Linked DNA regions of Homo sapiens: region 2 is linked to region 1. Evidence: fine-mapped expression QTL. A gene starts in region 1. The other region holds a variant in brackets. All regions are shown on one strand. Distances are from middle to middle.

Region 1 (5,255 bases):
CCACCACGCCCGGCCGCTAATTTTTATATTTTTAGTATAGATGGGGTTTCCCCATGTTGGCCAGGCTGATCTCAAACTCCTGACCTCTAGTGATCCGCCCGCCTCAGCCTCCCAGAAGGCTGGGATTACAGGCTTGAGTCACTGTGTCTGGCCTGTATTTTGTATTTTTTTAGTAGAGACGAGGTTTCCCCATGTTAGCCAGGCTGATCTCCAACTTCTGACCTCAGGTGATCCACCCGCCTCAGCCTCCCAAAGTGCTGGGATTACAGGCGTGAGCCACCGTGCCCGGCCTTAGGTTGCAGTGAGCTGAGATTGAGCCACTGCACTCCAGCCTGGGTGACAGAGCAAGACTTTGTCTCAAAAAATAAATAAATAAATAAATTAATTAAATTAAATAAAACCACCCAGTGATGGAGCTCCTAATATCTCTGTTTTACAGGTGAGGAAACTGAGGCAGAGAGAGGTCAAGTGTTTCAAGGTCACAGAGGGAGTAAATGGTGGGAATTAATAGAAACCAAGGCAGTCTGGCTCCGAGTCCATCCTCTCGATCAATATTACACTATCTGTCTCTGCAGTTGGCATAAATAGTTTGTTGAATTGAAGGTTATTTGCTTTCCAGTTGCTGAAACAATTTAAGCCTGGACTCCACCCATTGCTGGGAGGGTAAGGAAGTGTTTGGCAACCCCAGTGATCTGGCCAATTGTGGGCCTGTTCTTTGAAGCACCACCTTACTCCTTCCAATCCACTCTGCCTCAGCAGTGATCCCTGGAAAGGATCCTCAGATAGATAGCAGAAACGTGAAATCCTGCCAACTAGCCCATCCCTCTTCCAAGTCTACCACCCCATTCCCAGAGGACCCCAATGGGCAGGTTACCACAGTGTCTGGGTAAGACCTAACCATCTTTCCATCTGGTCTCCAGCTCTGACAGCTGGAGCATATAGGAGAGCAATGACCCTGGCCTTTGGCCCTACATGGTTTCTACCATAGGCCCAGTTTCTGCTACAACTTCACTTGCCCCTTCTTCCCAGAAAGCCAAGCTGTCCAAAGGTTGTAAGGCAAAGGGTATGGAGGGCCCCAGGTATTCCTAACCAATAAAAGAGAATACACATCGATATGGTAGCCGCTAGAATAAACACCCTATCTTTCATCCCAACTTGGGAGCTGAGTGCCGTGGCATCATCCAGGCTCTCCCTCCCCTTTGCTTCTGGTTTTCCTCTTTGTCCCAGGGTGTCCTCCCATTAGGAGCCCTGGCACAGGGCTGTGACAGCCACAATCAGTGGGCCAACTGGAGTGTGGTTCTGGGGCAATTGCCCTGGAGCAGCTGCAAGGCACTTGCCCTTTGGATCCTAACCCAGCCACCTCCTGCCAGGCTGGGGAGGAGCAGCGTGCATATACTAGGCTGGCCAAGGAGGCAGAGTGTGGGGATGACCAGGGAGGTGCCCAGTGGGAGCAGGGGTAGCTGAAGCAGATGTCCTTTCACACTTCCTGCTATTCGCTCCATTTCCTGTGGCCCAGAATTTCATGGGGGTGAGGGAAATTGTGCCAAGTTAGCAGTCTCCTTTGGTCCATCCGTCCCACTCCCTGAACCACATGACGGAAATCAGGGGCCTCCCACAAGTCAGCAACTTCCCCTTTCTCTGGGATGTTTAAACCCTGATCCAGGAGACGGATCATCTCTCTGATGATCTCTTTCTGATGCTCGTCTACTTGATGCTCAGAAACCCGGGTTCTCATACTCTATAGGTTGGAAGTGGGGTTGATATGATGTTTTGCAGAGCAAGCCAGAGCTCAGGACCAATTCCCTATTCCTGATACCCTCTGAGTTGAGGCCTACAGCCCCAACCTTTTCGTCTTTTGCTCCCGCTCCCCTGCGACTCAGGCATCCACCCCTTGCCCCTTGGGGGTGTTGAGTCACAACAGGAAGTGGATTTTGCTAGAGACCAAAAAAGAGAACTCGGGGTATCAGTGGAAGGAAAGAGCCTCGATTGCACAGAAAACATCCGGGGAGTGGACGCGCGCCCAGGGTGAATACTGCCTCCCCCACCCCCAGAGAGAGGGATACGATCTAGTTTCAGGGAGGGTCGCCACGCACTCGGCTCCCCCAAGATGAAGCTGTTGCTCCTGGCAACCCAAGGGAAGGTAGAAGTTTGGGTGAGGAGCCACCCGGCCCTCGGGACAGGTGTGGGCAGCGCGACTACCTGGGGGATATTGGATAGGAGGCTTTCCATTGGCTTGGCGCGAGTCTGGAGTGGATCCCCCCCGTCCCGGCATCCAGCCTCCCCGTACACGACCCCTCGGGGCCAGCCACCTGCTCCTCCTTCCTCCATCCCTGCATCGCAGCCTGCACGGGAGAGCCCAGTAGTCTGGCCCCACATCCCTGCGAGAACCCCGACACCGGTTTTTCTGATCCCCCTCAGGCCTCGCTTTCTGCAGGGGCCCGGGCATTTCCCCCCCACCCTCATTATCCTCGAGGACCTGCGCGTGCGGCCCCGGATGGCTGTCCCTAGGGACCCAGGCGTCCGGCCCCCAGATCCTCTCCGCTGCGCCCTCGTCTGGGACCGTCCCAGCCCCCGCCCCGAGCCGCCGCCCATGCCCCGCCGCGTGGCCCCACCTCCCTTACCTGGTCCCGGGTTTCTCCCCCATGGTGCGCGCGCCCGCCGCCCGCTCGGTTCGCGGCTCGCTCGCAGCCTCCTCGCCCGCTGCCAAGATCCCTGCTCCTCCCCGCGCCAATGCGCACGCGCGCCCTCCGCGCTCTCGCCTCTTCCCCCTCCCTCCCGGCCCCGCTCTGGTCTTGGGGAACCGGGGCCAGATGCGTCAGCCGGATCGCGCGCGCCGCGGCGCTGCCCGCCCTCTCCTAGCAGACACGCGGGGCCATTGGCTCCGCCCCCAGCCCTTCGCGCTCCTTCCCAGCCTGGTAGCCCTCCCCCGCGCGCGGGGCCAGCTCCCACTCCTCCCGCCCATCTCCCCGCCCCGCTGCAACCCCTTGAAACCGATTGGACCCCCCTAAACCAAGGCGCCCGCCTTCCAGGGGATCTAAGTCTTTCGATTGGCCTTCGGCATCCAGAACCTGCAGGGGTCTCCTCCCCTTTGTTTGCTTTCTCAGTGGCGGTGGGGGCGACCGGGCTGCTGGGGGCGGTGGAATGAGCTGAAGCGCCGTCTGGGAAGGAGGATGGTGGGGGGGAACACGTGGGTGAGCGGTTCAATTGCGTGATGCTTGCTTCAGTGCGCGCCGCTCACCTGCTCCACTCGGAGCGTGCCGCCTTCTGTGGCCAGCCCTCCCGCTTCTTCACTGCAGCGTGTCAGCTCCTCCTGGTGTTTGCATTTGATCTTCGCAGGGTTCCCTTTTCCAATGTCTCTGACTATCCATCTCCTTCACCCACCCATCCCAGCTAACATCCACTCACTCACCCGCTCCCATCCATCGGTCCATCTATGGACCCATCCATCCGTGCCTATGTTATGCTATTCACTATGCCAATCGATGGGGACACATACGAATTACCATGGCCCCTGCCTTCCTAGAATAGTTGAGGAGACACATACACAGGTATTACCCAGGAATGCTATTACAGAGGTCTGAGTCAGAAGACACAGCCGCTAACAGCAATTGGCCCGGGCGGGGGTGGAGGGAGTGCAGGCTGTCCAGAGCGGGGAACAGATGAGGACAGTCTTTCTGAAGGATGCGCAGAAGTTTTTTTTCTTTTTCTTGTTTTTTTTTTTTTTTTTGAGACAGAGTCTCACTCTGTCGCCGAGGCTGGAGTGCAGTGGTGAGAGGTGACAGCGTGCTGGCAGCTCTCACTCACTCTCGGCGCCTCCTCGGCCTTGGAACCCACTCTGGCCGCGCTTGAGGAGCCCTTCAGCCCGCCACTGCACTGTGGGAGTTCCTTTCTGGGCTGTCCAAGGCCGGAGCCGGTTCCCTCAGCTTGCGGGGAGGTGTGGAGGGAGAGGCGCGGGCGGGAACCCGGGCTGCGCGCGGTGCTTGCGGGCCAGCGCGAGTTCCGGGTGGGCGTGGGCTCGGCGGCTCCGCACTCGGAGTGGCCGGCCAGCCCCGGGCAGTGAGGGGCTTAGCACCTGGGCCAGCAGCTGCTGTGCTCAATTTTTCGCTGGGCCTTAGCTGCCTTCCCTCGGGGCAGGGCTCGGGACCTGCAGCCCGCCATGCCTGAGCCTCCCCTCCCCCTCCGTGGGCTCCTGTGCGGCCCGAGCCTCTCCGACGAGCACCGCCCCCTGCTCCAAGGCACCCAGTCCCATCGACCACCCAAGGGCTGAGGAGTGCAAGCACATGCGGACTGGCAGGCAGCTCCACCTGCGGCCCCCAAGCGGGATCCACTGGGTGAAGCCAAATGGGCTCCTGAGTCTGGTGGGGACTTGGAGAACCTTTATGTCTAGCTAAGGGATTGTAAATACACCAATCGGCACTCTGTATCTAGCTCAAGGTTTGTAAACACACCAATCAGCACCCTGTGTCTAGCTCAGGGTTTGTGAATGCACCAATCCACACTCTGTATCTAGCTACTCTGGTGGGGACTTGGAGAACCTTTGTGTCTACACTCTGTATCTAGCTAATCTAGTGGGGACGTGGAGAACTTTTGTGTCTAGCTCACGGATTGTAAATGCACCAATCAGCACCCTGCCAAAACAGACCAATCAGCTCTCTGTAAAATGGACCAATCGGCTCTCTGTAAAATGAACCAATCAGCAGGATGTGGGTGGGGCCGATTAGAGAATAAAAGCAGGCTGCCTGAACCGGCAATTGCAATGCACTGGGGTACTCTTCTGTTAGGTAGACCTTTTGTTCTTTTGTTTTTTGCGGTTAAATCTTGCTGCTGCTCCTTTTTTGGGTCTACACTGCCTTTATGAGCTGTAGTACTCGCTGGGAAGGTCTGCAGGTTCACTCCTGAAGCCAGTGAAACCACGAACCCACTAAGAAGAATGAATAACTTCGGAGACACGGCCTTAAGGGGGGTAACACCGCAAAGGCCTGCAGCTTCACTCTTGAGCTAGCGAGACCACGAACCCACCAGAAGGAAGAAACTCTGAACACATCCGAACGTCAGAAGGAACAAACTCCGGATATGCTGCCTTTAAGAACTGTAACACTTGCTGTGAGGGTCCATGGCTTCATTCTTAAAGTCAGTGAGACCCCCTACAAATTCTGGACACTGGTGTTGTGTCGGCTCACTGCAACTTCCATCTCCTGGGTTCCAGCTGTTCTGCCTCAGTCTCCCGGGTAGCTGGGATTACAGGTGTCCACTAC
Region 2 (5,000 bases), 38 kb after region 1:
GGAGAGGCCCTGCTCACCCACCTGCTCAGCGACATCTCCCCGCCAGCTGATGCCCTTAAGGTGAGGAGGCCTCAGCTCCGCCTTAGGACTCATCCTGTGCCCTTTGACCAAGTGTGCCTGCTCAGGAAACACTGTCTGCTGTGGCTGTCTTGCCTTGTTGTTTGCCTGTGGATGTGATTTATGTTTTCTCTGCCTCCAGCTGCGTAGCCCGCGGGGGAGCCCTGATGGGAGTTTGCAGACTGGGAAGCCTAGCGCCCCCAAGAAGCTAAAGCTGGATGTGGGGGAAGCTATGGCCCCGCCAAGCCACCGGAAAGGGGATAGCAATGCCAACAGCGACGTGTGTGCGGCTGCACTCAGAGGTGGGTGAGGCCTGTGCCCTGGACCACTGGGGCTCAAACGGGACCCCATCCTTTCCCCTAGTGGGACTCCCCTACCTACTATACCCTTAGGTGAAACTTTTGTGGGGAGAGTGCCTAGACCAGCCTTCGTCCACTGCGATAAGTGATCCCCCAAACAGCAGGTGAAGGGGAAGGTGCCTGTGAAATGCAGAGCCAGGCGGAAGCCCGCAGAGAGGCCAGGAGGAGGCACCCAAGCAGCCGCCCTGTTGCCAGGGCTGCAGGCGGCCTCGGGTCCTGCGGTTAGACCGGGAGCTCTGGTAGCCGACACAGCCCCTCCAAGGCCTTCGCTTCCTCCGGCGTTCAGCACGTCCTTGGTGTATCCACTTTCTATCAGGCAGAGTTCCAGCATGCGGGGAAGGCTCCTCCCTGTGAAGCTGACATTCTTCCAAGGGCAGGCTGCCTGGGGGAGCTCCCTGCTCTCACCGTAACCACTGACCTGTCCACAGGTTGCTAGTCGGATACTGTGCAGTTAATGGATGCCTTTCCTCTGGGTCCCATATATTTCACTGCCTGCCACCCCATCCCATGGGAAGGGGAGAACCGATTGTTCCCAAATATATAAATGCAAAATTATAAAATTTATAATTTTTTACTTACATTGTCTCAATTAAATACCGTCAGTGGCCCTATACAGTAGAGGTACTTTTATGATCCCCATTTTCTAGTTGAGAAGTTAAATGACTTGGCCAAGATAGGCAGTGGCAGAGTTGATGCCCATTTTGGGCTGTATGCTTCAGAAGCCCTTGCCGTCAGTCTGTTGGGAGCCTACCCTTTACACACCATTCTTCTTCCCCAGGCCTCAGCCGGACCATCCTCATGTGTGGGCCTCTCATCAAGGAGGAGACTCACAGGGTTAGTGGAGCCTCGTCTCCGTGGAGATAGGGGAAGGGGCCCCTGCTCTGTACACATTGGGGGGTGTGGCCCAGAGGTGGGTCCATTCCGACCTGGGAGTAGGCTCTGGAGAAGGGTTGGGTGGTCTTGGGGATGTTTCCAGGTGTGCTCTGTCCTTTTCAGAGACTGCATGACCTGGTCCTCCCCCTGGTCATGGGTGTACAGCAGGGTGAGGTCCTAGGCAGCTCCCCGTACACGAGCTCCCGCTGCCGCCGTGAACTCTACTGCCTGCTGCTGGCGCTGCTGCTGGCCCCGTCTCCTCGCTGCCCACCTCCTCTTGCCTGTGCCCTGCAAGCCTTCTCCCTCGGCCAGCGAGAAGATAGCCTTGAGGTAACTGTGATGGGCCAAGCCCCTCTTTGGTTCCTGGAGTCTCTTGTTTCCAAGAGACTCCCAGTATTTCTGGTGCTCACACTTGCCCTTTCTTCTTTCCTCAGGTCTCCTCTTTCTGCTCAGAAGCACTGGTGACCTGTGCTGCTCTGACCCACCCCCGGGTTCCTCCCCTGCAGCCCATGGGCCCCACCTGCCCCACACCTGCTCCAGTTCCCCCTCCTGAGGCCCCATCGCCCTTCAGGGCCCCACCGTTCCATCCTCCGGGCCCCATGCCCTCAGTGGGCTCCATGCCCTCAGCAGGCCCCATGCCTTCAGCAGGCCCCATGCCCTCAGCAGGCCCTGTGCCCTCGGCACGCCCTGGACCTCCCACCACAGCCAACCACCTAGGCCTTTCTGTCCCAGGCCTAGTGTCTGTCCCTCCCCGGCTTCTTCCTGGCCCTGAGAACCACCGGGCAGGCTCAAATGAGGACCCCATCCTTGCCCCTAGTGGGACTCCCCCACCTACTATACCCCCAGATGAAACTTTTGGGGGGAGAGTGCCCAGACCAGCCTTTGTCCACTATGACAAGGAGGAGGCATCTGATGTGGAGATCTCCTTGGAAAGTGACTCTGATGACAGCGTGGTGATCGTGCCCGAGGGGCTTCCCCCCCTGCCACCCCCACCACCCTCAGGTGCCACACCACCCCCTATAGCCCCCACTGGGCCACCAACAGCCTCCCCTCCTGTGCCAGCGAAGGAGGAGCCTGAAGAACTTCCTGCAGCCCCAGGGCCTCTCCCGCCACCCCCACCTCCGCCGCCGCCTG[T/C]TCCTGGTCCTGTGACGCTCCCTCCACCCCAGTTGGTCCCTGAAGGGACTCCTGGTGGGGGAGGACCCCCAGCCCTGGAAGAGGATTTGACAGTTATTAATATCAACAGCAGTGATGAAGAGGAGGAGGAAGAGGAAGAAGAGGAAGAAGAAGAAGAGGAAGAAGAGGAAGAGGAGGAAGACTTTGAGGAAGAGGAAGAGGATGAAGAGGAATATTTTGAAGAGGAAGAAGAGGAGGAAGAAGAGTTTGAGGAAGAATTTGAGGAAGAAGAAGGTGAGTTAGAGGAAGAAGAAGAAGAGGAGGATGAGGAGGAGGAAGAAGAACTGGAAGAGGTGGAAGACCTGGAGTTTGGCACAGCAGGAGGGGAGGTAGAAGAAGGTGCACCTCCACCCCCAACCCTGCCTCCAGCTCTGCCTCCCCCTGAGTCTCCCCCAAAGGTGCAGCCAGAACCCGAACCTGAACCCGGGCTGCTTTTGGAAGTGGAGGAGCCAGGGACGGAGGAGGAGCGTGGGGCTGACACAGCTCCCACCCTGGCCCCTGAAGCGCTCCCCTCCCAGGGAGAGGTGGAGAGGGAAGGGGAAAGCCCTGCGGCAGGGCCCCCTCCCCAGGAGCTTGTTGAAGAAGAGCCCTCTGCTCCCCCAACCCTGTTGGAAGAGGAGACTGAGGATGGGAGTGACAAGGTGCAGCCCCCACCAGAGACACCTGCAGAAGAAGAGATGGAGACAGAGACAGAGGCCGAAGCTCTCCAGGAAAAGGTGAGAGGCCAGGCAGGGAAGGTTCCTTGGGCGAGAAGGTGGGGCTGGCGGGAGAAGGGGTGGCAGCTGCTTCTCTTAGGAGAGGTTTGCCCAGCCTGAACCATTCTTCTGTGTATGTGTGTGTGACTATTCTGAATCTTGTATCTTTGTGCCTAAAAGGAGCAGGATGACACAGCTGCCATGCTGGCCGACTTCATCGATTGTCCCCCTGATGATGAGAAGCCACCACCTCCCACAGAGCCTGACTCCTAGCCATCTTCTGCACCCCACTCTTTGTTTCCAATAAAGTTATGTCCTTAGATAGCGACTGCTGCTTCTGCCTTTTGCCACACCTGGGTCCCCAGCCAGAAGCTCAAGTGTCTGCTGGGCTTTTCAGGGTGTCCATAGTATTCCCCAGATGTCTCCATAGCTGTCCTCTTTTTGACGATCCAGAGAGGAACAACTGACATTGGTGTAATGGACTGTCCCATCACTCAGCACGATGGTGTCAGAATTGTAGGATTCTGGCTGGATGCTAAACGTGCAGAATTGTGTGTAGGGTTAAGAATGAGGAGTTATAGAGACACAGCCCTGCTTTCGTGTTTGTATTCGGGGTGGGAAATGTGTGGAGAATGCATCCTAGTGAGTGGACCTGTGTCAACACCCACATGCCCACACGCATGCGTGCTCAGCCCCTTGGTCTGAAAGGGCAGGCTGAGTGATTGCTCAGTCTATGGAAGTTTAGGAAATTAGGAAAAGGTGTGGAGCAGTTTAGTCATTGAATTCTGGGAAATTTGGACCTTACCCCAAGATGAAAGGGTGTCCGTAGTGGGTACGTTGGGAATGACCTCTGTTTTGGGGCTAGTCCTCCTAATGACAGTTCCCCTCACAGCTCCCTGGCAGGAGTTTGATAAGCTCACCCCAGGCCTTCCTGCTCACTCTTGAGGTGTGGATATTTCCCACCCAGTGTCTTTTCTTTTCTTTTTTTTTTTGAGATGGACTCCTGCTCTGTCGCCCAGGCTGGAGTGCAGTGGCATGGTCTCAGCTCACTGCAACCTCTGCCTCCCAGGTTCAAGCAATTCTCTGCCTCAGCCTCCTGAGTAGCTGGGATTACAGGCGCCTGCCACTGCCTGGCTAATTTTTGTATTTTTAGTAGAGGTGGGGTTTCACCATGTTGGCCAGGCTGGTCTTGAACTCCTGAGCTCATGGTCCACCTGCCTTGGACTCCCAAAGTGCTGGGATCACAAGCATGAGACACCGCACCTGACTGTCCCAGTGTCTTTTCTTTAAGCACTAATCCTATTCTAGGCCTTGCTGGGATGGACGTGTGAGGATGAACCGAGAGATGTGTCTGTGAGAGGGTACCAAGATTGGTGGGCTTGAACTAGGGGCCCCGTGGTTTTTTTTGCTCAGTCAGTTGAATCATGAACGTAAGTAAAGTGCCTTCGCAATGCAGAAGAGGGAGTCATTTCTCCCAACATGTATCCTGAAGAGCCCTTTGAGGAGGTGGCATTTGAGCTAATTTTTGGAAACTTCAGTAGGATTTTAAAAAGTTACCCCTCAACTTGTTTTCGAAATAAACAGAAAAGTGAGAACAGTATAATAGATAACCTTTGCCTAGATTTGCCAATTAACATTTAGTCATGTTAACTCTTATCCCTATAAACTGCGTATCTACATGTAGACATGTATCTATATTACACCCATATATCTGTCTAATCTATACATCTGTAGTTATACACATTTCTTTTTTCATGGGACCACGTGAAAGTAAGCTGTAGACACCGTGGCCCTTCCCATCCCAGATTCTTTAACATGAATTATCTTCTAAGATAAGAATGTT

The links.
Region 2: its variant is fine-mapped to the expression of ARRB2 in whole blood (INTERVAL, PIP above 0.99).

The regions. Positions count from the first base shown.
Region 1 is chr17:4,708,111-4,713,365 of GRCh38, reverse strand. It overlaps ARRB2 (arrestin beta 2), which reads right to left and starts at 2,734. Exons shown (of 15, transcript NM_004313.4): 1 at 2,622-2,734. The coding sequence starts at 2,644. RefSeq lists a silencer at 2,488-3,017 and an enhancer at 2,947-3,116.
Region 2 is chr17:4,669,869-4,674,868 of GRCh38, reverse strand. It overlaps PELP1 (proline, glutamate and leucine rich protein 1), which reads left to right. Exons shown (of 17, transcript NM_014389.3): 12 at 1-60; 13 at 200-359; 14 at 1,195-1,250; 15 at 1,413-1,619; 16 at 1,724-3,178; 17 at 3,338-5,000. The coding sequence ends at 3,430. Among named protein-coding and RNA genes, the nearest start is that of ALOX15, 31 kb to the right of the region's middle. RefSeq lists an enhancer at 4,673-4,842. The variant T/C (reference allele first, on the strand shown) is at 2,424.